6 linked regions of the Homo sapiens genome follow. The protein of the gene in region 2 purifies or fractionates together with the protein of the main gene of each other region. This does not show direct contact. Each region holds a gene or a part of one and is shown on either strand. Other genes may lie near its edges. The genes, in order: TSPAN15, MOG, ARL6IP5, SAAL1, KBTBD8 and REEP5.

Region 1 (4,510 bases), on a different chromosome or scaffold from region 2:
CCCTCTCCCCTTCCCAGGAAATCCCAGAGCGCCTCGCTGTGCCCCATCAGCAAGGGCCCCTCCCTTCTGGGATTCCTGCCTCCACCCCAGCTCTGCTGCACACTATCTAGGGGATCTTGGCAAGTCACTGAAGCTTGCTGCTCCTCAGTTTCCTCCTCTGTGAAATAGGCATTATAATAGTGCCTCCCTCACAAAAAGAAGTGAAGCAGCAGTGCCTGCGCAGCACTTGGAAGAGCTTCGCCACGACTGCTATTGCCATTTGCCCCTCCTTCCAGCCATGCAGCCCTCCCCAGGCAAGTCCTGGACTTCTATGAAAAAAGCCTCTTCGCTCTTCCCCTCTGCACCTTCTCTGCCCTTCTGCAATCACCAAGTCACACTTTCTCTGAACCCACGGCCTGCCCACCTGGGGAAGCAGGATGCCCAGGAGGATGCCCGCCATGATGGTGTAGTTGTCCATGAACCAGATGATCACGGCGTTGGTGCAGCCCCGCACGTAGATGACATCCTGCACACTGAAACGCTGCATGGGAAGGAGCTGGGTCAGCCCAGCAGAGGACCTCGGCTGGCAGGAGCCACAGCCCCGACTCTGCCATGTACACAAGGTCCAGGCTAGTCCCTCAACCGCTGTGATCCTCAGTTTCCCATATGCAGCATGAGAAGGTGACCCTAGATTCTGATTCTTAATGGACAGTACTGTTCTCTAGAGAGGACTGGGGACACCGTGGTGGCACTTTTGGTTGCCCCAGCAAACGAGGTTGGCGGCTGAGGGACTGCAGAGCTCAGGGTAATCCTACTCCACAAACAACTGCCCTGCCTGTGTGCTTCTCAGATGTCCCTGCATGAAAAGCCTCACGGATGTTTTCCATACATGAAAAGCCTATTTATAATTATCCAAGCCAATAGCCCCACTCCAGGTACATATAAAAAACAAAGCAGAGTTGGGCATGGTGGCCAGTGCCTGCAGTCCCAGCTACTATGGAGGCTCAGTTGGGAGGAGTGCCTAAGCCTAGGAGTTTGAGGCCAGCCTAGGCAACAGTGAGACCCTGTCTGTCTCTTAAGGGAAAAAAAAAAAAAAAGCATTTCTGCATTGGTTTTAATATACAAAGAATTTTCCAGAAGTACTACTAGGTAAATTAAGGAATGATTACACATTATTTAATTCAGAACTTTATCAAGAATTGTTCACCGTTTTTAAAAACCATGCCAGTGGCAAAAATGATGCCCATGGTATGTGAGTCGCCAACACAATGCCCAGTATCAGCTGCCCTGTAGCTACTACAGCCTCAGGGATGCCTCACATCAGTGCAGACACCTGACTACATTGTGTCTTCTGCACCCCCCACTGCCTAAGCACTTACATGATGAACTATGTTAAACAGCTGTAAATTGCTGTATTTCATTTCTACTTTATCTCAGATCATTATGTTAATTGTATTGGAATTGGGCATGTAGGTAGGTTATCTGTGAATTTCACTTGGGGATAATAAATAGGACATTACCACTGTTTGTTATAAAAATGGCCATTGGTTCTGAGGGGCTGAGAACCACTGCTGGTCTATGGCTCTCAAGCATGTGTCAGAATCACCCACTAGCCCCATACCAAGAATGTGCATTTCTCACATTCCTAGGGGATGCTGTTGCTGCTGGACTGGGGACCCCACTTTGAAAGCCACTGCTCTGCATGTCAGGTCACTATTCCTTTTAGGTCCCTTCTCAGCACCACCCCTGCTTCTCTCCTAGACCAGGGGTGTTGCCCAGGAAGCTGACCCAGGAGCAACCCCCAGAGGGGGTTACCATCCTCTAGGACTCCTGGGTCCCAGGTGGCCCCAGGGGCAGAGGCAAGCTGGTGCTGAGCATGGCTGGGCACACAGCACGCTGCGGGTACCAGGAAGCGCCGTGGTGGCTTCATGTGGAACAGCCCACAGTAGGTGCTCGGCAAACCCTGACAGGCGGCATCTCCCAGCCTGGGGGAATTCTTGGTTCCCTGAGCCCTTCTGTGCTGGGGTGGAAAACCACAGCAGTCCTGGCTCTGGGTCACAGCCAGGAATGTGGGAAAATCTCAGTGGCCAGGACCCCGACCTCAATAAACCCCTCCGATCACCCCAGGGTGGACCAGGAAGAGCAACATTTCCAGGGAAAGGCATTTCAAAGACATTACCTCCTTGTCGATAGTTTTGTAGCCACACATGGTGTTGACAACTTCTGTCTGAAATGGAAATGTATAATAGCTAATATTTATAATGGTTCTAACTCAAAAAGGCACTATTATCCTACCCATTTTACAGATGAAAACCGAAGCACAGAGTTGCACCGTCCAGCAGGGATGGAGCTGAGATTCCGACCCAGGCAGTCTGGCTTGAGTCTCCATCATAACCACCTCCTCCTCCAAGAAATGCCCCGTGAAAAAACTGTAGGAATGCAGGTTCCATGACTTTTACCTGGGAGAACCACCCCTCCACTAGCAGCAGATCAGGACCCCAGAGAAAGGTGTGCTGCCCACGCTCCCGGGCTATGACCGCCCCAGAGCACCGCTTTGCTCACACCGTCTCAGAGGTCGGGGTGGGGCTGTTCCTGCGCCGCTGGCTCTTGGGGAGGAAAACTTCAGACTACAGCTGGCACAGGGTCAGCTGTGGTTTACCTGAGGTCCAGGGCAGGGCCCCTGGCCATGCTTCCGTTCCATAGACCACTGCTCCACCAGCGGAGAGTGCTGCCAAAACTTCCTTCTTGGGAAGAGAGGTGCTCTCCAGAACTCCCGACTACTGATTAATTTAGGCATAGGGAAACCTGTGGTCACGCCCTAGACCTCATCAAACCCCTCCCCAGGCAGGCCCTAACTCACAGGCTGCCGCGGGCACTTCCCATCACCACCTGTGCCCCGCAGGGTCTCCTTCTCCAACCACCAGGGAAGAGAGTGAGACTTCCTGGTCCAGCCCATGACCGTCCCCCCCAGCCCCGCTGCTCTACATGTAAGTGAACGCTGCCGTGAGTGCTGCAGGCGCCAGTGATGACTCAGGAGGGCAACAGCAGAGCCCCCAGCGTGCCCTCTGGTGTCACATTTCCTGGGTCCAGATCTTGCTCTGCCACTTAGGAGCAGAGCCCAACCTTAGGTGGGCTGCTAAGGAACTGGCACGCAGAGGTACTCAATACATATTTGTTAACTGAGAAAATGAATGAATGAATAGGTTGTGATGATCACAGAACCCACCTCCTAGGGCTGTTTTGGACATAAAGTGAGATACACATATAAAGTGCTTATCACGGGGCTGGGCACATGGAGGAGCACAAGAATGCTGGCTGGCGTGATTTGTTCACAATTCCAGCCCCTGCAAAGGAAAGGGAGGGTGTCTTCTCTCCTTCCGAGAGAGGGTTGGGCCTCAGATGTCATCTAGGTCATTCTAAATGTCAGGGCTTGATGTGCAGGCAAGACGACCTCCCTCGGTTTAGCTGGTTCTCCAGGTAGCCTCAGTCCCAGCCATGCCCAGTGCCCACTGGGCATTAGTCAGCCAGTGTTTTTGGCCCTTCCAGGCCATAAACACAACCCCTATGGAGAGGGTCAGGCCTGGAGAGCAGGTGCACGGGCACATGATGGGAGTGAGTGCTTTCCATCTCATTGGTTCATTCATTTGTTCATTGAACAAATATTAACTGAGCACCTATTGCATGTCAATCCCAGTTCTAGTCACTTGAAATACAGAACAACAAGACAAAGTCCCTGCCTTCATGGAACTTACACTGTAGAAAGGGAGATAATGAACATAACAAATAGGTAAGCTGCATGGTACGTAGGGAGGTGACAAGAGTGACTTCACTGGGCCAGCTCTGGTGACCTCGGGGGATGAGTCTCTTAGCACACAGGCAACTGGCAGAGGCCTCTCTGGCATCAGAGCCCAGAACCCTTCTCCAGGCCCAGGGGGGACTCACCTCACCCTGCCAGGAGAGCCCCTCACCAAGGGGTGAGGGGATACGATGCATCCATAGTCTTTCCAAAAGTAAAGCCTGCCTGGGTTTACCTGCCTGACCATAGAATCGATATTCTGCAAGAGGCTCTGCTGAAGTTCACAGGCCCCAAGACCAGGGTCCAGTAGCCTCTTCCATCCTGCACGGGGCCACAGGACAGGAAGTCAGAAGGGGGACTCCTGGGCAGCCAGAAGATCACAGCAATGTTTGTGTGTGCATCCTCTCACCCTGAAAAGACTGAGCAGCTAATGGGGACAGGGAGAGGGGCCTTCGCGACAGGCCCCCAAGGGGTAGCCAACAACAAGGGAGGGGAGGTACGTGAAAATTGGTCCCAAGAGCTCAGCAGGCACAGCAGTCTGGAGCCATTTAATGTAGAAGCACGCTGCCCTCTGCACCAACATCTCCGAGGGATATATCCTGGTATAACCAGATTTTACAGCCCTATGTGAACTTCTATGGCTCAAATCCTCTATTGGAAGCTCATATAAGACATTTCTTTTAAAGCTGAGTGTTAGGGAAAAGGTTACTTTCCCTGAAGAACTGGTATGTTCTG
Region 2 (5,659 bases):
AGGTTTACGTGTAAACGATCTATTTACCTCTGTTTTGCCATTCCTGAAAAGAGAGATCATGTGCATAAGGAGTTAAACAGAATAAGATAACATTTTTGTAAAGTAGTTAGAATAGTGCCTGGCACATAAAAACAGTACATGAGTATTTTTATTATGATTTTACCAATCCTAAATGCAAATGACTTCTTATTTAAAGAAAGAAAAGAGAAGAGAGGAAGGGACTCAACCAGGAGCCAGGGGTCCTTGTTCCCCCAGGTGACTGGAACTAGAGTGAAATACCAAGTTGACCTGGGAGGGCCTAGACATGCCGGAACTTACCAAAAGTCCGGTGGAGATTCTCTGAAAGAGAAACAAATGGAAATGGATTTAGTAGGGCACTCAAAAAGGATCTTTTATCCTGAGTCTTTGTTATTTAATTACTTAAAACTTGTTCTAGGCACGACACACCCACTGTAGAGAAAGGGAAACTGAGGGGAAAACAGGGTATTGAGAGGGAGAGACGGTCCAAGAACGGGACCATTTCCGTTATGCCAAAAAACCAAAAGGCAAGAATTGGGAGAAACGATGACTGGAACTCACCTATCTCTGCTCGAAGTTTTCCTAAAATAGAAAAAGGCAACATTTTAGTTCCTGCATGTTCTGGCTCTCGGTGGGGACCCTCCCACACCCAGCGCCTGGGCCCCTTGTGCAGGCTATTTCTCTGCAGCCTGGAAACAACCTCAGGAGAGTAGGAAGAGCACTGGATTTAAAGCCAATGGTTGCGGCTCTTTCTCTAGCTATAGTCTAGATACAATAGCGAATAAAGAATGTGAGCAATGCTCCAAGCCAGCACAAGCATCCAATACATCCCAGCTGCTCTTCGCCCCTTTTCTTGGATTCTCAGTTCACAGAGCTGCTCCAGCCCACTGCGTTGCCACTTTGTTTATCTAAAGCCACTTCCCATCTGAATGAGGAGGGAGGAGCTGAACATTTAGTGAGTAGCTAGCTACTTTGTGACTGGATTTGTAGTAGGCACTTTGCATGACTTTAATCCTCCCTACAATTTAGGACGAAGGATGTTTTCTCTATTTGACAGACAAGGCAACTGAAGCTTGGAGAATCTAAGAATTTTGCTATAGAGTTCAGTACCTGAGATGGAATTCAAACCCAGGCTGCCTGACTCTAACATTCAGATTCTTTCTGCTCAGCCATGAGGGCTGAAGGCCTTTTTTTGTGTGGAAGAAGTAAACAAGCAGGCATCTGGGATGAATTCAAGGTGAGAGAAAGGACTTTGTTGTTGATCGCACCAACACCCATTCCCCCAGAACATTCCCCATACCCTCCTTGCTACTTTCTCCTCTCCTCTTAGTAACAAATGGGAGGTGGGGCATGGGGAGGAGTGAAGACTCTTCCTGCTCTGGCATTGGGGAGACACTTGGTAGGAGGAGAAGGCTCAGAATGAAAGCTCTAGGCAAAAAAGAGGAGCTTCATCAGCAGCTGAACCTGAGTCCTCAGTGTTGAATGGAGAAAGAGGAAACAATTTTCGAACGCCTACTGTGTGGTAGAGACTTTCACTTCAGTATCTTTATTCAAAACTCCTAATAGCCTAGACCTGTCTGACTTCGAAGCTCACACTCTCCCAAGTTGCATGGAGCTGCTAGGTATGATACAGAGGCCTCAGCTCTACCACTTATAAGTTATATCGGTTTGAGTAAGTCACTGAACTACTCCTGGCCTCAGTTGTATCCTCTGTAAAATGGGGTTACTATATGGCATAGTTAGCTCATAGGGAAATGCTAGGTCCGATTATTCATATGAAAGCATTCCGTAAGATGTAAAACTCTTTCATCATGGAGTTATTTTTTTTCTTTATCACTCAATAGTGAGAAGAACTTCTGAACCCAGAAGTCACTCACAAATACATGTTAAGTGGTGTAGCTCCAAGAAGCCAGCTCATTTAAAGAAAGGATCCTGATCCACCCACCCTCTGCCCTGTACCTCTCAGTCTGTACTGCAGGCAGAGGAAGATGAGGCCAACAGTGATCTGCAGGAGGAGCACAGGCAGCACCGCGAGGAGAACCAGCACTCCAGGGCTCACCCAGTAGAAAGGATCTGAAAGGCAGGACTGACATTTGACATTGTCCAGAGCTGAATCCCCAACACTCAGCATGGTGTCTGGGGCCCAATAAATCAGGTCAAATAAAGAAGTGAATATCATCAGGATTCAAAGAAGGTGACACAGAATTGGTCCCTGAGCTTAGCCCTGAAGGAAAAATGGCTTTTTTTTCCAGGAAATGCTAGTGATTTAGAATGACAAGTGGTTTAAAGTCAAGATTGTGTATTGGGTCAGGCTGGGGGAGTTTTAACGAGCAGCTAAGGGACTTACATCTGAAGTCCCTCAAGGGACTTTTTATTGACGACAAAGTCAAAGGTTCTCTTCATATTATTGTGGTGTATCGCCTACAAGCATAATTAAAATAAACACTAAATTTCAGTTTAAAGTTTACTGAAAATAAATATGTATTTCAAATATGTAGTTCAAGGCTGTGGTGGTGCACTGAAGGATTCCAAGCTGAGAAGTGACCACGTCAGATTTAGCACCTACAGGACTGGAGAACATAGGGAGAAATGTTAAGAGACTGTGATAACAATTAAAGTAAAAAACAACATGAACCTGAACTAGGACAGTGGTAATGGTATAGGAAGTCAGGGGATTCAAAGCTTAAATAGGGAATAAAAAATACATATTTATTTTCAGTAAACTTTAAACTGAAATTTAGTGTTTATTTTAATTATGCTTGTAGGCGATACACCACAATAATATGAAGAGAACCTTTGACTTTGTCGTCAATAAAAATCACAAATATTGGCCAGGTGCGGTGGCTCACACCTGTAATCCCAGCACTTTGGGAGGCCGAGGCGGGCGGATCGCCTGAGGTTGGGAGTTCAAGACCAGCCTGACCAACATGGAGAAACCCTGTTTCTACTAAAAATACAAAATTAGCTGGACGTGGTGGCACAGTCCTGTAATCCCAGCTACTCAAGAGGCTGAGGCAGGAGAATCGCTTGAACCCAGGAGGCGGAGGTTGAGGTGAGCCGAGATCTTGCCATTGCACTCCAGCCTGGGCAACAAGAGCGAAACTCCATCTCAAAAAAAAAAAAGAAAAAGAAAAATCACAAATATTTTCACGTCACATTAGAAAAGTCACAGAAATCTCAAACTATCACTTATGTTCATTACTATTTTGAAATTACACTAATTAATAGGGTCACCCTAACTCTTGTTAATTTAATATTTTGATAACTGTATTTTGGTATAAATGTTTTATTTGGTGTATTTAAAACATTCTTCTGGCTAGGTGTGGTGGCTCTCCCCTGTAATCCCACCACTTTGGGAGGCCAAGGCAGGAAGATTGCTTGAGCCCAGGAGTTCTCGAGGCCAGACTGGGCAACATAATGTGAGACCCTGCCTCTACGAAAAAAAATTAAAAATTACCTGGGCATGGTGACACAAGCCTGTGGTCTCAGCTATTCAAGAGGCTGAGTCAGGAGGATCACTTGAGCCTGGGAGGTGGAGGCTGCAATGAGCCATGATCGTGCCACTGCAACCAATCCTGGGTGACAGAGTGAGACACTGTCTCAAAAAAAAAAAAAAAATTCTGAGATGGGTCTATCAACTTCATCAGCTTGCGGAAGGTGCATGACACACAACAAAAGGTTAAGAGCCCTCTTCTAGAGCTTTTAAGAAGGTAGTTTACAGCGGGCATGGTGGCTCACACCTGTAATCCCAGCATTTTGGGAGGCCAAGGTGGGTGGATCACTTGAGGTCAGGAGTTCGAGACCGGCTTGGCCAACATGGTGAAACCCTCTCTCTACTGATAATACAAAAATTAGCCAGACATGGTGGTGCAGCCTGTAATCCCAGCTACTTGGAAGGCTGAGGGAGGAGAATTGCATGAACCTGGGAGTTGGAGGGTGCAGTGAGCCGAGATTGCACCATTGCACTCCAGCCTGGGTAACAAGAGCAAAACTCCATCTCAAAAAAAAAATAAATAAATAAATAAAAGAAAAAAGAAAAAGAAGGTAGCTTACACAGGATTCAGTAACTGAACAGATGTGCAGACCTGGAGATGTGGAGTAGGTTGAGCAATGAGGGAGGGGGACCTTCACTTCTGTGGCTCCCATCTATTTCCCATTCTAGGTCTGCTCCTCAGCATCCAAAAGCCCCACTCTAATCTCCATGTGCCATGCTGCAGCTGAAGCCCTTTTCATCTTGATCTCTGCTTTAAGGGAGCTGAGTAAGGATAATGACATCAAAGGTAGGGATACATCACAGCTAATAACATTAAACTGGTCCAGGAGGGTTGCTTAGGTATAATTACAATCCTTCAAGCTGTAGACTAAGGCTCCTGTCTATCATTGTGTTCCCTAGGGGAAAATGCAGCTACCTTTACTTTCAAGTTCTTAATGGAAGTTACCTGTAGCAATGTGATTTAGCGAGTATGTACTTAAGGGTTTTTTTCTCCCAACCCCCCACATTTTTCCTTTCACAAATAATTAGAAAAGAGAGAAAAGCAGACATTATCAGCCTCCGGATGTAAAGCAACAAGAAGTATAGAGTATCACTGATGAACTATATTTGCCAAAGTAAATCAAACACAAATGTCATTGCACCTCCACATCTATCAGTTTACAGAAAAACACAGGGCATGGAGGACCGTATTACATAGCAACATGGGAATGTCGTCAACAAAATTCAGACCCTGGGAAACCCTAAGGGCAAAGGTCAACAGGTGGGTCTCATTTGAATCTCGCTAAAAGAAACCAACTGTAAGAGTATATTTATGAAACAATCAGGAAAATTTGAACACAAACTGGGTATTTGATGATATTAAGAAATTTTTGTTGAGTTTGTAAGATGTGATAATAGTATTGTGGTTATTTATTTATTTATATTATTGTGTGTGGGGAGGGGGGGCTTTTTTTTTTTTTTTTTTGAGTCTCACTCTGTTGCCCCAGGCTGGAGTGCAGTGGCATGATCTCAGCTCACTGCAAGCTCCGCCTCCCGGGTTCACTCCATTCTCCTGCCTCAGCTCCCAAGTAGCTGGGACTACAGGCGCCTGCCACCACGCCAGGCTAATTTTGTTTTTGTATTTGTAGTAGAAATGGGGTTTCACCATGTTAGCTAGGATGGTCTCAATCTCTTGACCTCATGATTCGCCCTCCTTGGGCTCCCAAAGTACTGGGATTACAGGTGTGAGCCACCGCGCCCGGCCTATTTATTTTTTAAAAAGTGTTCTTCGCTGGGTGCAGTGGCTCGCGCCTGTAATTCTAGCACTTTGGGAGGCCGAGGTGGGAGGATTGCTTGAGCCTAGGAGTTTGAGACCAGCCTGATCAACATGGTAAAACCCAGTCTCTACAAAAAATACAAAACATTAGCAGTGTGTGGTGGTGTGTGCCTGTGGTCCCAGCTACTATGTAGGCTGAGGTGGGAGGATGGCTTCTGCCCGGGAGGCAGAGGCTGCAGTGAGCAGAGATATGCCACTACACTCCAGCCTGGGTGACAGAGACAGATCCTGTCTCAAAATAAATAAAAAGAAAAAAAAGAAATGATCATGCTGCCTAGGATTTACCTCAGTAATTGAGTAGGGGAGGGTGGTAATGAGTGGGGAGCCGGTGA
Region 3 (4,487 bases), on a different chromosome or scaffold from region 2:
TAGGGTAAAAAGTTAAGTAACTCATTGTACCAGCCCACCACAGACGTCTTGTTAAGGGTTTTGTATACACAGTGGATTGGGGTGGGCGACTATAATGCCCAAAACTTTGTCTAAATTTCTTCTTCTTATTATCATTATTGAGACAGAGTTTTGCTCTTGTTGCCCAGGCTGGAGTGCAATGGCGTGATCTCAGCTCACTGCAACCTCCACCTTCTGAGTTCAAGTGATTCTCCTGCCTCAGCCTCCCAAGTAGCTGGGATTACAGGCATGTACCACCACGCCCAGCTAATTTTTGTATTTTTAGTAGAGATGAGGTGCCACCATGTTGGCCAGGCTGGCCTTGAACTCTTGACCTCAGGTGATCCACCCACCTAGGCCTCCCAAAGTGCTAGGATTACAGGTGTGTGCCACCATGCCTGGCATAAATTTCTTCTACATAATGTGTTTCCTCCATTATCAATAGTAGTGTAATTGCTATTACATACTAAACATTTGGCTTATATAAGAATGAATCTGGAACTGTGTGCTTGAAAATCTGCATTGGTAACTCATCTCCTAATGATACTTTGGGCATTTTAAAACACTTATAATGAACTCTCTATGTGAGGAGTCATAAACTCAAATGCCTCCATGGGGCAGGCAGGTTATGTAAGAGAGCGATTCAGGCCAGCTATTAGAAAAACAATGATTAGACTGGGCATGGTGTGGCTCATGCCTGTAATCCTAGCACTTTGGGAGGCCGAGCTGGGCAGATCACTTGACGCCAGGAGTTCAAGACCAGCCTGGCCAACATGGCAAAATCCCACCTGTACTGAAAATACAAAAAATTAGCTGGGCGTGGTGGCATGTACCTGTAATCCCAGTTACTCGGGAGGCTGAGGCACAAGAATTGCTTGAACCCAGGAGGCAGAGGTTGCAGTGAGCCAAGATTGCGCCACTGCACTCCAGCCTGGGTGACAGAGCAAGACTCTGTCTCAAATAAAAAAAAAAAAAAAAGAAAAACAGTGATTAATAGCACCTCACTTTGGGCCTATGTGTCCATGATGCAGTAGAGAGCAGTGTGGACTGGAGCTCAATGGAGACTGTTTATTCTGTCTGAATGAGAAGGCACTCAAGCCAGCTGTTGACATGTGGGAAAGTGGGCCTAGCACTGTTATTTTCTTGTTCCAGGAGAACAAGAAATCCCAAGTTTTCTGGATTTTTTTTTAACACATGGGTTTCAAGTAAAAGTTTTTTAAAACACTGTACAGGCCAAACAAAAATGTGACTGTATACTGGATCTAGCCCATGGAGGCCATTATGTGGCCTGTATTCTACATTCGTCCATCATGAGCTTCTCTGAGGATTTAAATAAACCTTTAGAGCTAAGAAAACACAACCTACTGTGTACTAGAGCCCAGGATGTAAGGAAGCTAAACATAGTACCTTCAAAAGAAGTTTTAGTCTTCAAAATTGTGGACCTCTAACGAGATACTTTGATGGGAACTGCCTGGGTGTGATCTCAGCTCCACCTTTTTTTTTTTTTTTTTTTTTAATGAGATAAGGTCTCACTCTGTCACCCAGCCAGGAGTGCAGTGGGGGAATCTTGGCTCACTGGAGACTCAACCTCCCAGGTTCAAGTGATCCTCCCACCTCAGCCTCCTGAGTAGCTGGGAACACAGGTGTGTGCCACCACACCTGGCTAATTTTCATATTTTTGTAGAGATGGGTTTTGCCATGTTGCCTGGGTTGGTCTTGAACCCCTGGGCTCAAGTGATCCTCCCACCTTGGCCTCTGAAAGTGCTGGGATTATAGGTGTGAACTACCATTCCTGGCCTTCCCCACCATTTTCTAACCTCTGTGCCTTAGCTTCTTCATTTGAGAAATGAACTAATAGTATCTCCTTTATAAGGTTATGAGAAATCAAATGAGACAATTTAGATAAAGTATTAAAGTATTAGTAAGTTCTCAATAATTGTTTTTACTCCTCTTTCTCCTTTTGCTACTTCTATTGCTGAACTAGTCACCCCTCATTTTTTCTTCCTCATATTTCAGGTTTCTGAGTCCCTTCAACATGATCCTGGGAGGAATCGTGGTGGTGCTGGTGTTCACAGGGTTTGTGTGGGCAGCCCACAATAAAGACGTCCTTCGCCGGATGAAGAAGCGCTACCCCACGACGTTCGTTATGGTGGTCATGTTGGCGAGCTATTTCCTTATCTCCATGTTTGGAGGAGTCATGGTCTTTGTGTTTGGCATTACTTTTCCTTTGCTGTGTAAGTGAACTTGAGTTTTTTCTTCCATCATCAAAAAAATGTAGAAGCAATTATCCAACGGGAATTCCATAACCCATTTCTTATATGTGTTGGCATGTCAGCAAAAGTGTCAGAATTTTCTAAAACAGCTTTCTACTTGTTATCCAACTAGACCCAGATAACACAGAACTGAGGTCAAGAACTATGAGGTCAAGGCCTTATAGTTCATTAATTCCACAAATATTTGTTGGGGCATCTGCTATGTGTCATACATTCTTTTGTTGTTGTTGAGATGGGGTCTACTCTGTCACCCACGCTGTGGTGTTATCTCGGCTTACTGCAACCTCTGCCTCCTGAATAGCTGGGACCACAGGTGCACACCCAGCTAATTTTTTGTGTTTTGGGTAGAGACCGGGGTTTTACTATGTTGCCCAGGCTGATCTCGGACTCCCAAGCTTGAGTGATCTAGCTTCCTTGGACTCCCCAAGTGCTGGGATTACAGGCGTGAGCCACTTCGCCCAGCTGTGTGCCATACATTCTTATGGGGACACAACAGTAAACAGAACAAAGACAAATCCCAGGTCATACAGCAGGAATGTGGCATAACCTGCACTAGACTCCAGATTTGTCTAATAAGAGAGTCTATTCTCAATTTTTAAGTGCCATTCCTATTGTCCTGACACAGGAATGAATGTATTTATTATTTGGAAGTAGACTATTTATTCTCCACTTGCTCAGGAGATCATAACTAGTGTTAAAAGTTTGGTAAGTCTATAGGAATAATTGGCTCAGAATATAGGTACTAAATACTCAGATTCTGGTGAAGAGATCTAGATATTCTCTAAGTTTTACATGAATTATTTACTAAGACTCCAAACACTTGAAGCCTGAAATAGACAAGAAATAAAATCCCAGCCTAATCAGCAGAAATCTGATTAAAATTCTAGTATATTAAGTGACAGGCACATCCCTTTAACTTTCAATAACATTTGACATGTGCACTTATTCCACTAAATGAAATTATTTGCTTGTTTAGGGCTTTGTTAGATTAAGTCCAGAATATTTATGGATACATCCCATACCCTATTGGATAAAATATCTGAGCCAACAAATTCACACATTTTTGGAATTTTCTTCAGGTTTTCTGTAGGTGCTTAACGCTTAGTATTTCAATGATACTGTTTAATCAAACAGCTTGCTAATTTTAATACCTTTCCACATCAGAACCTGAGACAGGCCAGTGTAACGAAATGTATCAGAGGTAGACAGTTAAGAGTCCTGATTTCTATTCTTAGACCTGCTGGAAACCAGCATGTGATTTGGACCAGTCATCCTATATGGGCTGTAGTTCACTCATCTCTAAAGTAAGGAGATTAGATAAGTGATTCCCAAACGGATAATTGTGACAAGCATTCAGGATACTTTTTAAAAATATACATTTCCCAGCCACATCTTTATTTTGTGGGTCAACAGTGGTACCCAAGGATGTTAGGTTTTTAGAAAGCTCGTCAACTATTTCTAACGGGTGGTCTAGGTTGAGATCCTCCAGATGAATCCACATCAGGGTTTTTCAAAATAAGGGTCCAAGATCCACCTACATCAGAATCATCTGGAGTGATTATTAAAATAATGAATTCTGGAGCCTTCCCTCAGTTGTAACAGTCTGAATTTGGGGTGATGGAGACCAGGAATTTGCCTATTTAACAGGCTCTCCAGGTGATTTGAATGTACATGGAAGTTGTAAAACCACTGGTATAGATCATATGGAGAGAGGGTTACCTGTTTAAAATACAGATTCCCAGGCCTGTCTCTTTAAGGCTCAGGTGGAGGAGGTCCAGGAAAGGGGATAGGGAATCTGTGGTAAAATAATCAAGCAAGTTTGGGGAACGGTAGGCTATAGAAACTCTGTAAAGCCCTTAGATTTTTACATCTAGAATTCTATACCCAACACTTTGGGTAAAGCCTCCGGGAGGCACTTTAAAAGTGGACTTTACTCACGTGCTCCTGCAGGGAACAAGATACAGATAATCCCGAATCGAGCAAGAGTTCTTTTCTGGAAAGCCTCGGGTAAGTTGATTTTTAAGTAGGATGGAATCCCGTTGATTCACTCTGAATTTCAGGACATTTAAGTAGCATCTGCAAGGTGATGATATCAGTGTGTGAAGGAAAGGGTGTGGCTTCCAGATAATGGTCCTTCCTGTTGAATACAGCATTTTCCTTTAATGCAGAAAAAAAACTATGTATGACTTGATGGAG
Region 4 (5,659 bases), on a different chromosome or scaffold from region 2:
TAAAACAATGGTTTGGCAAATGTTTATTTAAGTACTTACAAATTTCAGGCACTATGTTAGGAGTTGAGAAAACAGATGTATAAGATGTTATCCCTACCTTCATAAACTTTATACTCTAAAAGGAAAGAAGATTCCAAGTGGGGTAATTACAATAAAGTGGTACTAATGTAGCACTATGGGCTAGGAACTTCACAAAGCAAGGAGACTTAGTTTGCAGGGTCAGGGAAGGTATCTTAAGAAAAATGATGTTTACACAGAAACATGAAGGGGCAAAGAAGTGTCTGAGGTGGAGGAAACATACTGTGCAAGGGCCTGGAGACAAGACAGCCTGGTTCAGTTGAAGAAGTGACGCAAACTTCACATGACTGAAACGCAGAGTACAAGGAATAAGGATAGCGCTACTGGGTCCATAAGCTGTACTTTATTTTTTTGAGAATTTTTCATTTATTTCATTCTTTTTTCCCCTATTTTATTTATTTATATTTTGGATTCAGAAGGTACATGTTGGGGGTTGTTACATGCATGATGCTGAGGTTTGGGAATATGGATGGTCCCATCACCCAGGTGATGTATGTAGTACCCAAGCTGTGTTTGTTTGTTTGTTTTTCTGGACCTTATCCTAAGGAAGGCAACTGAAAAGACCGAAGCATGAGAGTGAAATGAGTGCGTACTTTGCAAAAACAGCTTTAAAGTCTAGGCTTGGGAAGAGCAAGCATAGAGGCAGGGAATTCAAGTAAAAGAATGTGGCAGTTCTCCAGATGAGAAACAATAATGGCTTGATTGGCATGGATGGAATCCCAGAAAATGTCAGGAATAAGGGTTGGGAGTTGACTGCAATGGGAAAATACTGGGGCAGGAAAGATTCAGTAATTGGCTTCTCCATTTCTTCTACATTATCCAAATAGGATAATGATTACATCATTTACTGAGATTGAGAATACTGATGAAGCAGGTTTAGGGAAAGATGATGAATTTATCCCTCACTTGGATAAAGGACACAAAATTAATAGGTTTTGATGTGGCTTACTCAGCACTAAGAATGCACTAAGAAAAACACTAAGCAGATCAATTTAAAAATTAATTTTCTAGTGATTAGCAATAAACAGTTTTAATGACCTGTAAGGCTTAGTAATCACTCTTGGCAAGACATCAGAGTCCCAACATCGGTCACTTATTGAAGACTGGCATATAAACACAAGGAGCAAAAAAAAGCAAATGATGTGCAACGTTAATGAAGTTGTTAAATGTTCAATGTAAAATAAAGCACAAGAAAATGTTTTCTCTTTGATTTAAATTACATAAAATATGGTAAGACAGAAACCACAGTTAATGTTGAGTAACAGCCTATAGCTAAATGATAATATAACAGGAACTTTGTAACCACTATACAGGTTGCATCACAAATAGTAGTAGTGAATTAACGTAACAAGGAGTGACTATGTACTTTATTCTGTTGTAAGGAATATAAGAAGACTTTTATATCTGAGAATACTTCTAGCAATTGCATTTTCCCAGAACATTTTACACAAAAGAGCTCACCTACCGTACTTGTTTGGCAGCTTCAAGTATACAGGGCACAAGCCGAAACACTGGCTGCTCTTCAGACTCTTCCTGGGGTTGGTCCAGAGGCTGAGCAGCCCCATTTCTGACCCATTCTAACATTAGTTTCTCATCCAAATCAAAGAGCTTGTCCACAACCTCCCCCACCTTCACCAGCAAGTCAACTGCAGAGAATAAAACAGATATTGAAATGAAAAACAAACTGCTAAAAGCAATAGGGTTAAGCAAAATTCCTAAAGCTATTCTAAGAAAACCAAATCTTGCCAAAGCAGTACTTATTCTAAAGGGTGATTTACTTATCTTTTATGTTTAAATTTGCTTATCTTTCCTCATTTTTAAATGAGGAATTTATCAGTGTCCCAGGAGTTTAAGAAATTTTGTATCTTCAATCAAAAAACTTTCTCAAAAAAACAAACAAAAAGCTGGACATGGTGGCTTACACCTATACTCCCAACACTTTTGGGAGCCCAAGGCTGGATGACTGCTTGAACACACGAGTTGGAGACCAGCCTGGGCAAGAAAGCGAGACCCCGTCTCTACAAAAAATTTTAAAATGAGCTGAGCATGGCGGTGCATGACTATAGTCCCAGCTATTGGGGAGATTAACAGAAGGATACCTTGAGATCAGGAGTTTGAGGCTGTAGTAGGCTATGATCACACTACTGCACTCCAACCTGGGTGACAGAGCAAGATTCTGTCTCAAACAAACTTCATTACCTTGCACTCAAGGCTTTTTTTAAAAAGGTGACTTCTAGAAATAGTTACATGGTTTCCTAAAAATTAGATACAATTTAAAACATTTTTTTTCTAGAGTACATGATGACTTACCATTTGTTGAACTTGACATAATGAAGCAAATGCTATCATAAATAGCTGGATGTTCCTGGATCCTTTCAACCCAAACACTGGCCACTTCTGCCTGGGAAAGGCAAGTAAGCAACAACCTACATGGTAAACGTGGGTTGAATTTCTACTTTTCAAAAAAAAAAAAAAAACAGTAAAGGAAATTCGAAAATAAAAAATTAACTTTTTTTTCTTATCTACTCTTATGAGTAACCTTATAGAATTCATAAAAGGAAAAGCATACCTGCTTGTTTCCAGCAGAGTAGGTGGGTCTGAATCATACAAACAGTGCAATAACACCTGCCTACAAAAACAAAGAAGTTAACCGATATGCCTCACTTCTCGCATTTAAAATATCAGAGTTTTCATTTAATTTTTTGAACATCTTTATTGTGAAATACAGCATATATTCAGAAAAGCTCAAAAGATACAAATCTATAGTTAATAAATAATTATAAAGCAAACACTCGTGTTTCCAAGAAACAGAACAGAGCTGCATCTTTGTAGTCACCATGTGTCCATTCCAAATCACAATTCTCTTTCCCACCTAGAAATGATGACCATTCTGATTTTTCCAGCAATCATTTCCTTACTTTGCACTATAGTTTTATTATTTTATATATTTTGGTGTTGCTTTATACTGCAGGTAAAAGGATTAAGAGGACATGCTGAATAAATAGACATAATCTGGGAGGTTATTTGGATTCATGAAGACAGTCAAGGAGGGGAGACAACATATGAAATAAATTATACTTATTGAGTCTTCATTTATTTGCTGAAAATTATACATGTAAGATCTACCCATGTTGTTTCTTTAGCTGTTATTCTTTGACAGACTGCTGCAGAGCACTCCATTGTGTGAAAATAACACAATTTATTTTTCCAGACTACTGTTGATGGACATTTCTGTTGATTCCAATTTGGGGCTATTTCAAGCAATCCTCCTACAATATTTGTTAAGAGTTATCCTGATGCACACGTGCACAGTTTCTCTTACCATATATGCCCACTATGAGCTGGTCACAGCACATGCATATGTTCCAACGTGACCAGATAATGCCCAACTAAAGTGGTTCAACAAATTTATATCCCATCAGCAATATAAATTGCACCACACTAATATTAAGACAAGCATTTAACTGAATTTATAACATTTGTTAACATTTCTCATTTTTGGATTTTTGATAGAGAACATTAGAGACCAAACATAATCTTAAGTCATTTGTTCCATGGATGATGGTAAATTACTGAGGAATAAATACTCTGAACTAGGATCTTAAAGTCCCTCCACAACTAGGAGTTCTCTCTTTCTGAGAAACCCAGGTACTTGAATCCTGTGATAAAACCCTCATGGCCCCAGCTCTGACAAAAACTGCCTAGAACAGTTTTCTTAACCTATTTTGGGTACAAATTTCTTTGAGATTCTGATTAAAAGCCATGAACCCTTTGCCTAGAAAACTAATACACTCACAAAATTCAGCATATAATTTCGGGGTGTTCTCCGAACACAGTAACCACTGGGGTTTCCTCCATTAAAACACCTTCTGCCCAGAACTTTACACATGGAGAAGAGAACGAGCCTCGAAGCAGATATCTGAAAGTCTTTTCATCAGAGAGGCAACCCTTTATCTTCCAGTTGTTGGCAAGTCTTACACTCTAAGTCAGAGCTCTCAGGATGACATTATTCAACAAATCTAGTTTCTGTAGACTCCAGCTGAGTCATTGGATTCCCTGCCCCTAAACTGTTTTGGATTCCAGTTGGCTGCCCCATCTCCAAGTTTTGGCCCACTGGTTCTTCCCCTATCTGGCTTATTGCCACCAGCTGACAATTCAGGTTCCTTTGCTACTGAAGAAAACAGGCTTAAATCCTGAATCATTTCAGTATCTCCTGAAGAAGCCCCTAGCTATCATCAACACACAATGAAGTTCCCACAGAGTGTTCATCAAGACAAAGAAAGGACTGTCTTTCAGATTTGCTACTTTTCCTATGTATTAGAATTTCCTTAAGGATATAAATGAATATATTAAAAAACATAATTATATAGTAAGACTTACCCAAGATTTTTATCACTGCTGATGGACACACATATCTCCTGGAAACAGGCCATATTACCTAAAATTCCCACACAGATTTCCTGCCAAATCAAATTTTACAAGTCACAATGGCTCTGAGACGAAAGACGTAAACAAAAATATCAACTTGAACAAAAACTTTCGCTGAGCCAAGTTTTGGGGCAAGGCGGAGGGGAGGCAGGATAAAGAAATACATATACTGCCTGTACCCTAACCTTGACAAGCTTACAGTATTTGAGAAGGGATGAAAAACGTAAGAACAAGAAAGGGCAAAGGCAGGAGCTATGCGAGAAGAACTTCTATCGATAAAATGAGTTTTAAATGATTGATAGGAATGAGATATGCAAACAAAAAGACAGACATTCAAATAAGGGGAAAGTATCAGCAAAGGCAGGAAGGGAATCATGTACATGGCGAATACTGTAGACAATAAAGTACTCTGGTTGTGGCACAAAGTGGGTGAACAGCATGAGGTAAATACTGCAGGTATAAAGGACTGAGATTAAGGGCTCTGAATGCCGTGCTGAAGAATTAGACTTAATCTGGGAAGTTATTTGGAATCATGAAGATGCTCAAGGAGGGGAGACAACATACTGAAACAGTATCTTAGGAAGATTACTCTGGTGGCGAAATGCATAATGTATTAGTGTAGTCCCTCTTTATCCATGGTTTCAGTTACCCATGGTCAACCTTGGTATAAAAGTACTAAATAGAAAATTCTAGAAATAAACAATTCATGTTTTAAATTGCATGCCTTTCTGAGCAGCACGATGAAATCTTGCACCGTCTCACCCAGGATGTGAATCATTCTTTTGTTCAACATATCCACACTGTATGTGCTGCCTGCCCATTAGTTACTTAGTAGCCATCTTGGCTATCAGATCGACCATCGGGATATCTCACAGGGCTTGTGTTCATGTCACCCTTATTTTACTTAATAATGACCCCAAAGCACAAGAGTAGTGATGCTGGCAATTTGGATATGCCAAGGAGCCGCCATTAAGTGCTTTCTTTACATGAAAAGGTAAAAGTTCTTGACTTCATAAGAAAAACAAACAAAAATGTATGCTGAGGTTGCTTAGGATCTCTAAGAACAAATCTATCCATGAAACTGTGAAGAAGGAAAAGGAAATTTGTGCATATTATAAATAGGGTTCAGTACTATCCTCGGTTTTAGGCATTG
Region 5 (5,563 bases), on a different chromosome or scaffold from region 2:
CAACATGGTGAAACCCCGTATTAACAAAAAAAAAAAAAAAAAAAAAAAAAAAAAATGAAAATTAGCTGGTCACAGTGGCGTGCGCCTGTAGTCCCAGCTACTCAGGAGGCTGAGGTGGGAGGATCTCTTGAGCCGTGGAGGTGACTGCAGTGAGCCAAGATTGCGTCACTGCACTCCAGCCTGGGCAGAGTAAGGCCCTGTCTCAAAAAAAAGAAAAGAAATAGAAAGATGAGTTATTAATACTTAAAGCAACCAGAAGAAAAAAAACTATAAAAATTAGAACAGAAATCAATGAAACCGAAAACACAAAACAATAGAGAAAATTCATTAGAACTAAACCTGGTTTTTTTTTTTTTTGAAAAGACCAATAAAATTGGTAATCCTTTAGGCTCCAAGACTTAACTGAAAATTCATTTCTTCCCACAAGCATTCATTGAGTGCCTACTATGTGCTAGGCATCAATCTAAAGTGCAACAGTGAATTAAAATAAATTCGTTGCCTTTGTGGAGTGTACATTTCAATGGGGGAAGACACATATGGAAAATAAAGCAGAAAAATAAAGCAGGAGGTATGATGGGGGTGGGGTTGGATGATCTTATTTTACAAAATGTGATCAGAGAAGGCCTCTCCAGTAAGGTGATGTTTTAATAAAAAAGAAAGTGAGTGAGTTGTCAAGATCTATCCAGCAAAAGAGACAGCAAGGGCAAAGTCGCTGTGGAGGTGCTCAGCAGGTTTGAGCAACAAGCAAGGTCAGTGTGGCTAAAATAGAGCAAGCCAAGTAAATGGCAACAAGTTTGAGAGGGGTGGATCATGTAAGTATGGAGTTTGGCTGTCATATGAAGGGAGATGGGAAGCCATTGGAAGGATCTGAGCAGAAGAGAAACATGATCTGACTTGTGTTTTAAGAGGATCACTCTGAGTACTGTGTGGAGAAAAGAATAGGTTATGAGGGGTCAAGGGTGATAGAAGGAAGACCAGTCAGTGGAAACTGCATTAAGTCAGATAAGATAAGCTGGCTTAGACTAGGGTGACAGTGGTGCAAATGGTATGTGGTCTGAGTCTGGATGTATTATGAAGGAAGAAGCAACGGGACTTTCTGATGAATTAAACATGAAATACGTAAGAGATTATATAGTGTGGGCATTTGTCCCCTCCAAATCTCATGTCGAAATGTGATCCCCAGTGTTGGAAGAAGTGGGGCCTAGTGGAAGGTATTTGGATCATGGGGGTGGATTCTTCATCAATGGCTTGGTGCCCTCCCTATGGTAATGAGCGCATGTGAGATCCCATTGTTAAAGAGACAGGAACCTCCCCCAACTTTCTCTGGCTCCCTCTCTTTCCTGCTCCCGCTTCACCCTCTGCCATGAGCTAAAGCCTCCTGAGGCCTCAATCTCAGGTATTCCTTTACGGTAATGCAAAGTGGACCAACACAAAAGAGTCAAACATAACAAGATTTTAGGCCAGAACAAACAGAACAAAGAATTTACCAATATAAGTGAACTAACTTGCTTTAGAATTTAAAAAGTATTATATACATAAAGTAGTTCATTTTTTACCAGAGGACAGGTATTCAATAGATTAAAATCTCATTCCATTCTATCATGACATAAGGTATTTCATGATTTTTTACCAGATTTTAATTCTGCAACACTCACTAGTCAGATATCACTTTGCAACACTGGAAGTTTTCAATCAGAAAAGGTTTTATTATAAGAAACAATGACATCAGGTAAAAATGCAAAAAATTGTGCAATTATGGCAAAATGTTTAAAAATATCTACACATTTGCCCCCACAGGACTACAGTACTTACTACATACCTGAGCACTGAACATTGAATTCCATTTTAAACTGCTTTACATAGGGAATCTGATTCCTTCATGATCACATCCATTTGTTCTCATGACCAATAAAATCAGCTTGATGCTTAAGCATCAACTTTGTAGAACAGAAAACAAAGATGGAAAATAAAGAATACAATTTCTACTTTCCTATAACATAGTTATACCCAGTCCAGTTTTCAATGTGTGACAAATATATAGGAAAGTGCTACATACATTCTTCAAATGCAAAAACAAAGTTAAAGTGGAACTGGCATTATGTTAGACCTACATTTTAATTCTGTAGTACCCATTGTGCCTTTTACTTAAGGTCTTACCACACTATGAAAATGCACCTTAAATATCTAAATATAAACCCACACATGTCACTAATCTTACTTTTCTAGGACCTCTTCTGAATCCATTTTAACAGTGGCAAAATATCCCAGCTATATAATTTAAACAAATAGTTCTTCATACAAAATTCAATATATATTCTACTCCCATAACAAATCCTAAGCCTTGCTTTTGACACACTTAACTTAGATCGTACCCTCCATACAAATTGTCATAGCCAAAAGATCAACTGTTGTGCAGGCTAAAAGAATAAATCTACTGTTGAATTAGCCACAGTATGTCATTCTCTTATATAACATACAGCCCATGTAAATTGCTAACTCAATGTTCTATGTCATGTTTTCAAGTAATACATTTTTCTAAATACACAAGATTGTCAAAAAGCGGCAGGAAATCTTATTCAACAAAGCTTTCAAAAATAAATTACATGAACATCTCTTGCAAAAAAATTGTTTTTTCTCTCTCCTCAGCAATGCAAAACTGTAAAGAATGATTTCTAAAATACACAGTAATAACTCCAAAACATCATGATGATAAAAACAAAAACAAAACAGAAGATAAAACTGGGGAGGTAAAAATGTTGACAAAGTTTATACAGAGATTACAGACATACTATCAACACCAATAAGAAGAAACCACATATCTAGCTAAGACTAGATTTTAAAATGTTAATTCTAGAAATGCTGTCCATTTTAACTTCTGCTTCAGAAAACATTCCCTACTTGTAGAGGTCTATGTAAAGCAGTTTGGAAAGTTTCTGAAAAACGAGGTATGTGATGCAAAGAGGCAATGTTTTCAATTTGTTTCACAGTATCACATTACAATTTGTGCAAGATTTTTAAAATACGAACCATGCCAGTTTGCTTTCAAGTGAATACAAATATTGTGATTGAGGGCAAAATCTGTCCTATGCTTATACCCTTTACGAATTACTCTAGGCTTAGTAAAACATGTTACTGATCCAAATGCCTGCCTTAGGTATACAAATAAGTTGGTTTATCCTTCATGTTAATATTCCTAACTGATGATTGTTAGAAATTTCATCAGTTAAATGCAAAAAATGCTTTAGTACCTAGAAAGCTATGGTTCTGTTCACTCACTCTTTTCCTTTTCAATCACCTTCAGCTAGAAGGAGGATTCCAACGTAAAAGTATTCATCACTGTTAAGTGCAAAAATGGAAAAAAAAAATGAGGTTTTAATTGTAATATGAAACTTAAAGACATTAAATTAGACCACTGCAGGAATTTTGTTTCTGGAAAGCAGAATTTTAAAAGTAGGTATAAAACTTCACATTATGCTCTGTGCAGAAGAGAAATAAGTTACCTTTCCTTGTACCAATAATGAATGGACAGGTAGATGGAAGAGAAGGTTGGGCTACAAATGGCCCATGTTAGTGCAAACTGGGTATAATGTTCCTACTATTCTAAGATTGAGTCCAGTTAGATGAATAACTGGCCATACCCTCCTATCACATAAGTAGAGAATCTTGTGAAATCACAAGAGTTCAACAGGTAAAGTACTATGGCCATGAAATCCACACCAATTTGAAAGATAGGCATAGGCTCAGACCATTTAAATCCATCTAGTTATACACATGAATTAAGTTAGACTAGCACCAGCCACCTGTGAATATGAGCACTTTTCCAGATTTTCACAAAAGAGACAGTGTTAGCACTTGAAAAAGTCATCGACAGAAAACTGCCACTTTAAAACTTTAGCTTAACTTAAAATTACATGGGAAATGGAAACAATCAGACTAAAAGCTCTTTCTGAGACTAATTTTTTCTTCGATCTACTCTAATAATAGAACACATTTAAATCTCAGTACACTTGAAAACAGTACACAAAAATAGATACATATAAATATTAAGAATGAGGATCTAAGTTAGTGCTTCTCTGTGTTAGAGAGGTCACAGCTAAAGTCCTAGTGATATTGCCTCAGATTGTTACCCGTATTTAAAATTAAAAGTCACATCAAACAAGTTTAGACGTCTTTACCCAATAATACCCTAAATGCTCTTATAAGAGTGCATAGTTGTCCTGATTCATCTGGTACCTCAGTTACTATTTATCACAAAATTATAAAATGAAATGATTAATTTTATGCCAGGAAAAAAAAATGCTGATAATTGCACTTTGTTATCTTTTCCTTACTGAAATGAAATGTCACAAGGATGAAGGAAAATCCCTCCCTACCCTGCAATCTTTAAGCATACCCATTTTCCATGTATAAAACTCTCTCAGCTTTCTGAAATACTGTCAGCACTCTTTTGTATCAAAGACAAGTTTCCTAAGAATGAGATGCCAGTGATGCACTAAGGCCTGCTACTCATTTAGAGTACTTTCTGAAGACACTGAGGATACAGTTTAGCAACAGCACATTCAAAATGCCGGCCAAGGTCCCAGAGCCGATCTGGGGTCTCATACACTTTCATCCACTGGTCAGCAATGTCATCATATTGGTAAAGGGAATTTTTTCTGCTGGTTCTGAAGACGTGTTCTTCAACAGTCACTTGAGTAGCTCGAACAAATAAATGGAGTTTGTTCTGGAAAAGTACCAGTTTAAGGTATGGATTTATGGACTGATCACATGGAAAGTCTTTCTTACGAGTCCATTTATTTAGCTCAATATCATAGGCTTCTACAGTAAACATACGTTGATGATTTCCACAGGTTCCAGCTATGTAGTAGATAGAGTCCTTGTATACAGCTGCTAAGCCCTGGATTCTAGGCACAGTCATGGGGGTTAAGAAACCCCAGTAGTCTTTTTGAGGCTCATAGAAGAGAAAAAATTCTCCTAAAAAAAAAAAAAAGAAAACAAGAATATGTAAATTTTTATGTTTGGTTTTTGGTTATATGTTGTAACTACAACCTCTAAAGATTAAAGGGCATAATTTGCTATATATTTCACTTTCTAAAACATTTCTTTTATAATCTCCAGAGATACATTCATATGGGTTACAAAATACCTTAAAACTTTGTCATTCCATGACACAATATAACAGATAATATTATAATCAACCTGAATTGGGAGGTTTGTATTGGGAAGGTACAAGGAGTTACTTGGGCTTGATGGCAGAATTGTTAAGAGCTTGATTCTGGCCAGGCACAGTGGCTCACGCCTGTAATCCCAGCACTTTGGGAGGCTGAGACGGGTGGATTACTTGAGGTCAGGAGTTTGAGACCAGCCTGGCCAACATGGTGAAACCCCATCTCCATTAAAAATACAAAAATTAGCCAGGTGTGGTGGCAGGCACCTGTAATTCCAGCTACTCAGGAGGCTAAGGCAGGAGAATCACTTGAACCCAGGAGGTGAAGGATGCAGTGAGCCAAGATCACGCCACTGCACTCCAGCCTGGGTAACAATGTGAGACTCCATCTCAAAA
Region 6 (3,500 bases), on a different chromosome or scaffold from region 2:
AGAACCAAGAGGCTAAGAAATGTGGGTGAAGTAGACAGAAATGACATCACCACAGGTTGCTGATTAGGCTAAGGGAAGGGAGAAGAAAAGAAAGCTCTTAAAAATAAGCTGGTAATCCTGGCTGGGCATGGTGGCTCATGCCTGTAATCCCAGCATTTTGAGAGGCCGAGGTGGGTGGATCACTTGAGGCCAGGAGTTTGAAACCAGCCTGGCCAACATGGCATAACGGTGTCTCTACTAAAAATACAAGTATCAGCTGGGCGTGGTGGCCCACACCTGTAATCACAGCTACTTGGGAGGCTGAGGCAGCAGAATCCCTTGAACCTGGAAGGTGGAGGCTGCAGTGAGCTGAGATCATGCTACTGCACTCCAGCCTGGGCAACAGAGTGAGACTCTGTTTCAAAAAAAAAAAAAAAAAAAAAAAGCTGGCAATCCTAAAGTGGGAGGAGGTTAAGGCTACAAGTTAAAAAATACCTAAAACATATTCAAGTAGACTGGATTTGTATGCCCAAAAATAGGAGTCCAGAGAAGAGAGGTCTGTGAGGGAGAAATGGGGAACATACCACTTCTGGGGCATCAGTGCTGCTGGAGAACTGTCTTGGGATTTTACTTCCCCATGGTCAGGCAACCTCACAACTCCCATGTCTAACTACCACAGAGCTCTAAAACACAAAAACCTTTCTCCAATTTCTAAAATCTGAGTCCCTCTGGAACTCAAGACCCATCACTGGCAAAATCTATATCCTCATCCATTCCTCCGAATGTTTCCTTTACCTTCTTGCTCTTAGAGAAAGCTGGCTGTGCCCTGAGGACACTGCTTTCTCAAGTGGTGGCTGTTTCTTTCCTCTCATGACCCTAGTACAAATGGATCTGGTAGGTGTTGTTTTTGTTCTTCATTGCCACTTTCAGAATCTCATGTCATCAGATTCTATCACTGAGTAGCCTTCCCTTTCCCTGTCATCCCTGACTCTTGGGCTACTTTGCCTTAGTTCTTGAAGATTTTAGCTCCTAACTTAATGTTCCTTTCTAACACTACTCCTATTATTTATTTATTTAGAGACAGGGTCTCACTCTGTCACCCAGGCTGGAATGCAGTGATGCCATCTCAGCTCACTGCAGCCTCAACCTCCAGGCTCAGGTGATCCTCCCATCTCAGCCTCCTGAGTAGCTGGGACTACTGGTACGCATCACCACATCTGGCTAATTTTTGTGTTTTTTTTTTTTTGTAGAGACTGGGTTTCACCATGTTACTCAGGCTGGTCTCAAACACCTGAGCTCAAGCAATCCACCCACCTTGACCTCTGGAAGTGCTGTGATTACAGGTGTGAGCACTGCACCTGACCTACTACTCCTATTTTAATTATTGATGATTTTAATATCCATGTAGACATATGTGATGATCTTCTAATATCCTGACCTCTTAGTTCCTCCCCTCCAATAACCCTTATATTCCACCCTACATATGGCACTGACTCCCAGGATCCCTGTTAGTACCAATACTGCAGTCCCTCCATAATCTTGTATCAAGCATCCCACTCAGCCACCATCACCTTTTATCTTTGTAGTGCACTCCCCACCCTGCTTTTTTGCTCATTGTAGATGATGATGGAGTATTCCCGCTATTATCCTGATTCAGAGTTCTTCCACCACCACTTCCCACCTTACTCAGGTTAAATTCCATTGTCAAGCATTAACCACTCCACAGTCCCACCCTCACTTCATAGTTCTTGCTGGAAATCACAACCTTGACACAACTCTCCACCTACTCTGTAGCTATACCCATGTAGCTGAGTATGGCTGGAGAAAAACATAAACAAGAACTGGTTTCACTATAAATTCATGAACGCAAATCTCAAGCATGCCTTTAACACTGCCTGACAGTCCATTTACTCTCCAACTGTCCTAGAGGGGCCAGCACACTGCAGCCAAACTCGCTTATGTAGTGTCCATGGCTGTTTTCACACTACAATGGCAGAGAAGAGTAGCTGCAACAGAGACATGATAGCCCACGAAATTTAAAACATTTGTTATCTGGCCCTTTACAGAAAAAGATGAGCAGTCCCTCTCCTTCGCAACTATTTCATACCTTCTCTTTCCATTGTCTCCTTCCCCATCCTCTCTCAATTGGCCTTCCTACTTTACTGAGAAATATGAAACAATTAGAAAGTCACTTCTGTAGGCTCCCATAGTCACATGTGCTCACAGCATACCATAAAACCTGATTTCCCTGCTGTTACCATAAACTTCCAGCTCTTCGACCAATCCCTCTACTGTATACTGGATCCTTCACTGGTCAAGGACAGAGCTCCAACAATTCACCCTCTCACTCCTATCATCATTTTTTGCTCTGTTGAATTATTCCCATTAATTTTCAAACAGGCTTTGTTTCTCCTACCTTAAGAAAAAAACTTTTAAAATTTCAGGACCATAATTCCTTCTTCCAGTTATAGCCCCATTCTTCTGCTCTCCTTTGCAGGAAATTTCTCAAAAGAAAGATCTATATTCTCTCATCCCTTTTCTCTCATTCTCTCAAATCCATTGCAATCAGGAGTTTGATATCACTCCACAAAATCTGTGTTATCAAAATCACTAGTACCTTCCTCATTGCTAAATCTGCTCAGTTCTCAGTCCTTATCTTACTTGACCTGTTGACAGCATGTAACATGACAGATCACTTCTCCTCTCTGAAAGAAAAACTTTCTGTTCTTGGCCCCAGGGATACCACACGCTCATGGTTTTCTTGCTACCTCAATTGGCCACTCCTTATCAGTCTGCTTTGCTAGTTGCTTCTCATCTCTCCAGTCTCTAAACCTTAGACTCCCCAGCGTTCAGTCTTTGGACCTCCTGTTTCCTAACTACACTACCTTCGTGATCTCATCTAGTCTCATGCTTAATATGTATAAGCTTGTGGCCCCCAAATTTATATCTCCAGTCCAGACCTGTTTCTTGAACTCTTGACACCTGTATCCAACTAGCTATTTGACTAATCCTTGTAGGTATCTAACAAACAGACACCTCAAACAAATGTCCAGGACTAAATTCCATATCCTCCCACCCACCACAACCTCCCACCCCAACAAAACCTGTTCTACCCAGTCTTCTCCAGCTCAGTGGCAATTTTATCCTTCCATCTGTTCAGGCTAAAAAGCTCGTCCTTGTCCTTAACCCCTCTGACCCATGCCCAATCCATAAGCCAATCCATAAGCAAATCCCATTACTTCTACCTTTGAAATATATCAAGAATCTGATACTTCTTACCCCCTACTGCTACACAAGGAACCAAGCCACCATCATCACCTCCAGCCAGATCACTGCAAGAACCTTTTAACTGTTCTCCCAACTTCCTGCCTTACCCCTTCAGTCTGTTCCTAATACAGTGGCCACAGGCATCTTATTAAAACACAGGACAGATCATTTTGCTTCTGTGGTTAAAAGTCCCCAGTACCTCCACATCTCACATAGAGTAGAAGCCAAACCTTTACAATGGCCTATAAGGCATT

What was found.
Region 1: the proteins of MOG (region 2) and TSPAN15 purify together in Homo sapiens (affinity purification with mass spectrometry; one large-scale study listed by BioGRID and IntAct). This does not show direct contact.
Region 3: the proteins of MOG (region 2) and ARL6IP5 purify together in Homo sapiens (affinity purification with mass spectrometry; one large-scale study listed by BioGRID and IntAct). This does not show direct contact.
Region 4: the proteins of MOG (region 2) and SAAL1 purify together in Homo sapiens (affinity purification with mass spectrometry; one large-scale study listed by BioGRID and IntAct). This does not show direct contact.
Region 5: the proteins of MOG (region 2) and KBTBD8 purify together in Homo sapiens (affinity purification with mass spectrometry; one large-scale study listed by BioGRID and IntAct). This does not show direct contact.
Region 6: the proteins of MOG (region 2) and REEP5 purify together in Homo sapiens (affinity purification with mass spectrometry; one large-scale study listed by BioGRID and IntAct). This does not show direct contact.

The regions. Positions count from the first base shown.
Region 1 is NC_000010.11:69,502,134-69,506,643, reverse strand, and holds part of TSPAN15 (tetraspanin-15), read right to left. Parts: intron 2,207-4,510; coding exon 2,159-2,206; intron 521-2,158; coding exon 404-520; intron 1-403. UniProt on the Homo sapiens protein: Part of TspanC8 subgroup, composed of 6 members that interact with the transmembrane metalloprotease ADAM10.
Region 2 is NC_000006.12:29,662,584-29,668,242, reverse strand, and holds part of MOG (myelin-oligodendrocyte glycoprotein isoform alpha1 precursor), read right to left. Parts: intron 2,092-5,659; coding exon 1,978-2,091; intron 601-1,977; coding exon 580-600; intron 340-579; coding exon 319-339; intron 1-318.
Region 3 is NC_000003.12:69,099,805-69,104,291, forward strand, and holds part of ARL6IP5 (PRA1 family protein 3), read left to right. Parts: intron 1-2,034; coding exon 2,035-2,252; intron 2,253-4,487. UniProt on the Homo sapiens protein: Regulates intracellular concentrations of taurine and glutamate. Negatively modulates SLC1A1/EAAC1 glutamate transport activity by decreasing its affinity for glutamate in a PKC activity-dependent manner.
Region 4 is NC_000011.10:18,087,787-18,093,445, forward strand, and holds part of SAAL1 (protein SAAL1), read right to left. Parts: intron 4,539-5,659; coding exon 4,459-4,538; intron 2,708-4,458; coding exon 2,648-2,707; intron 2,505-2,647; coding exon 2,389-2,504; intron 1,725-2,388; coding exon 1,544-1,724; intron 1-1,543. UniProt on the Homo sapiens protein: Plays a role in promoting the proliferation of synovial fibroblasts in response to pro-inflammatory stimuli.
Region 5 is NC_000003.12:67,007,333-67,012,895, reverse strand, and holds the end of KBTBD8 (kelch repeat and BTB domain-containing protein 8), read right to left. Parts: intron 4,975-5,563; coding exon 4,511-4,974; 3' UTR 1,686-4,510; downstream 1-1,685. UniProt on the Homo sapiens protein: Substrate-specific adapter of a BCR (BTB-CUL3-RBX1) E3 ubiquitin ligase complex that acts as a regulator of neural crest specification.
Region 6 is NC_000005.10:112,880,728-112,884,227, forward strand, and holds part of REEP5 (receptor expression-enhancing protein 5), read right to left. Parts: intron 1-3,500. UniProt on the Homo sapiens protein: Plays an essential role in heart function and development by regulating the organization and function of the sarcoplasmic reticulum in cardiomyocytes.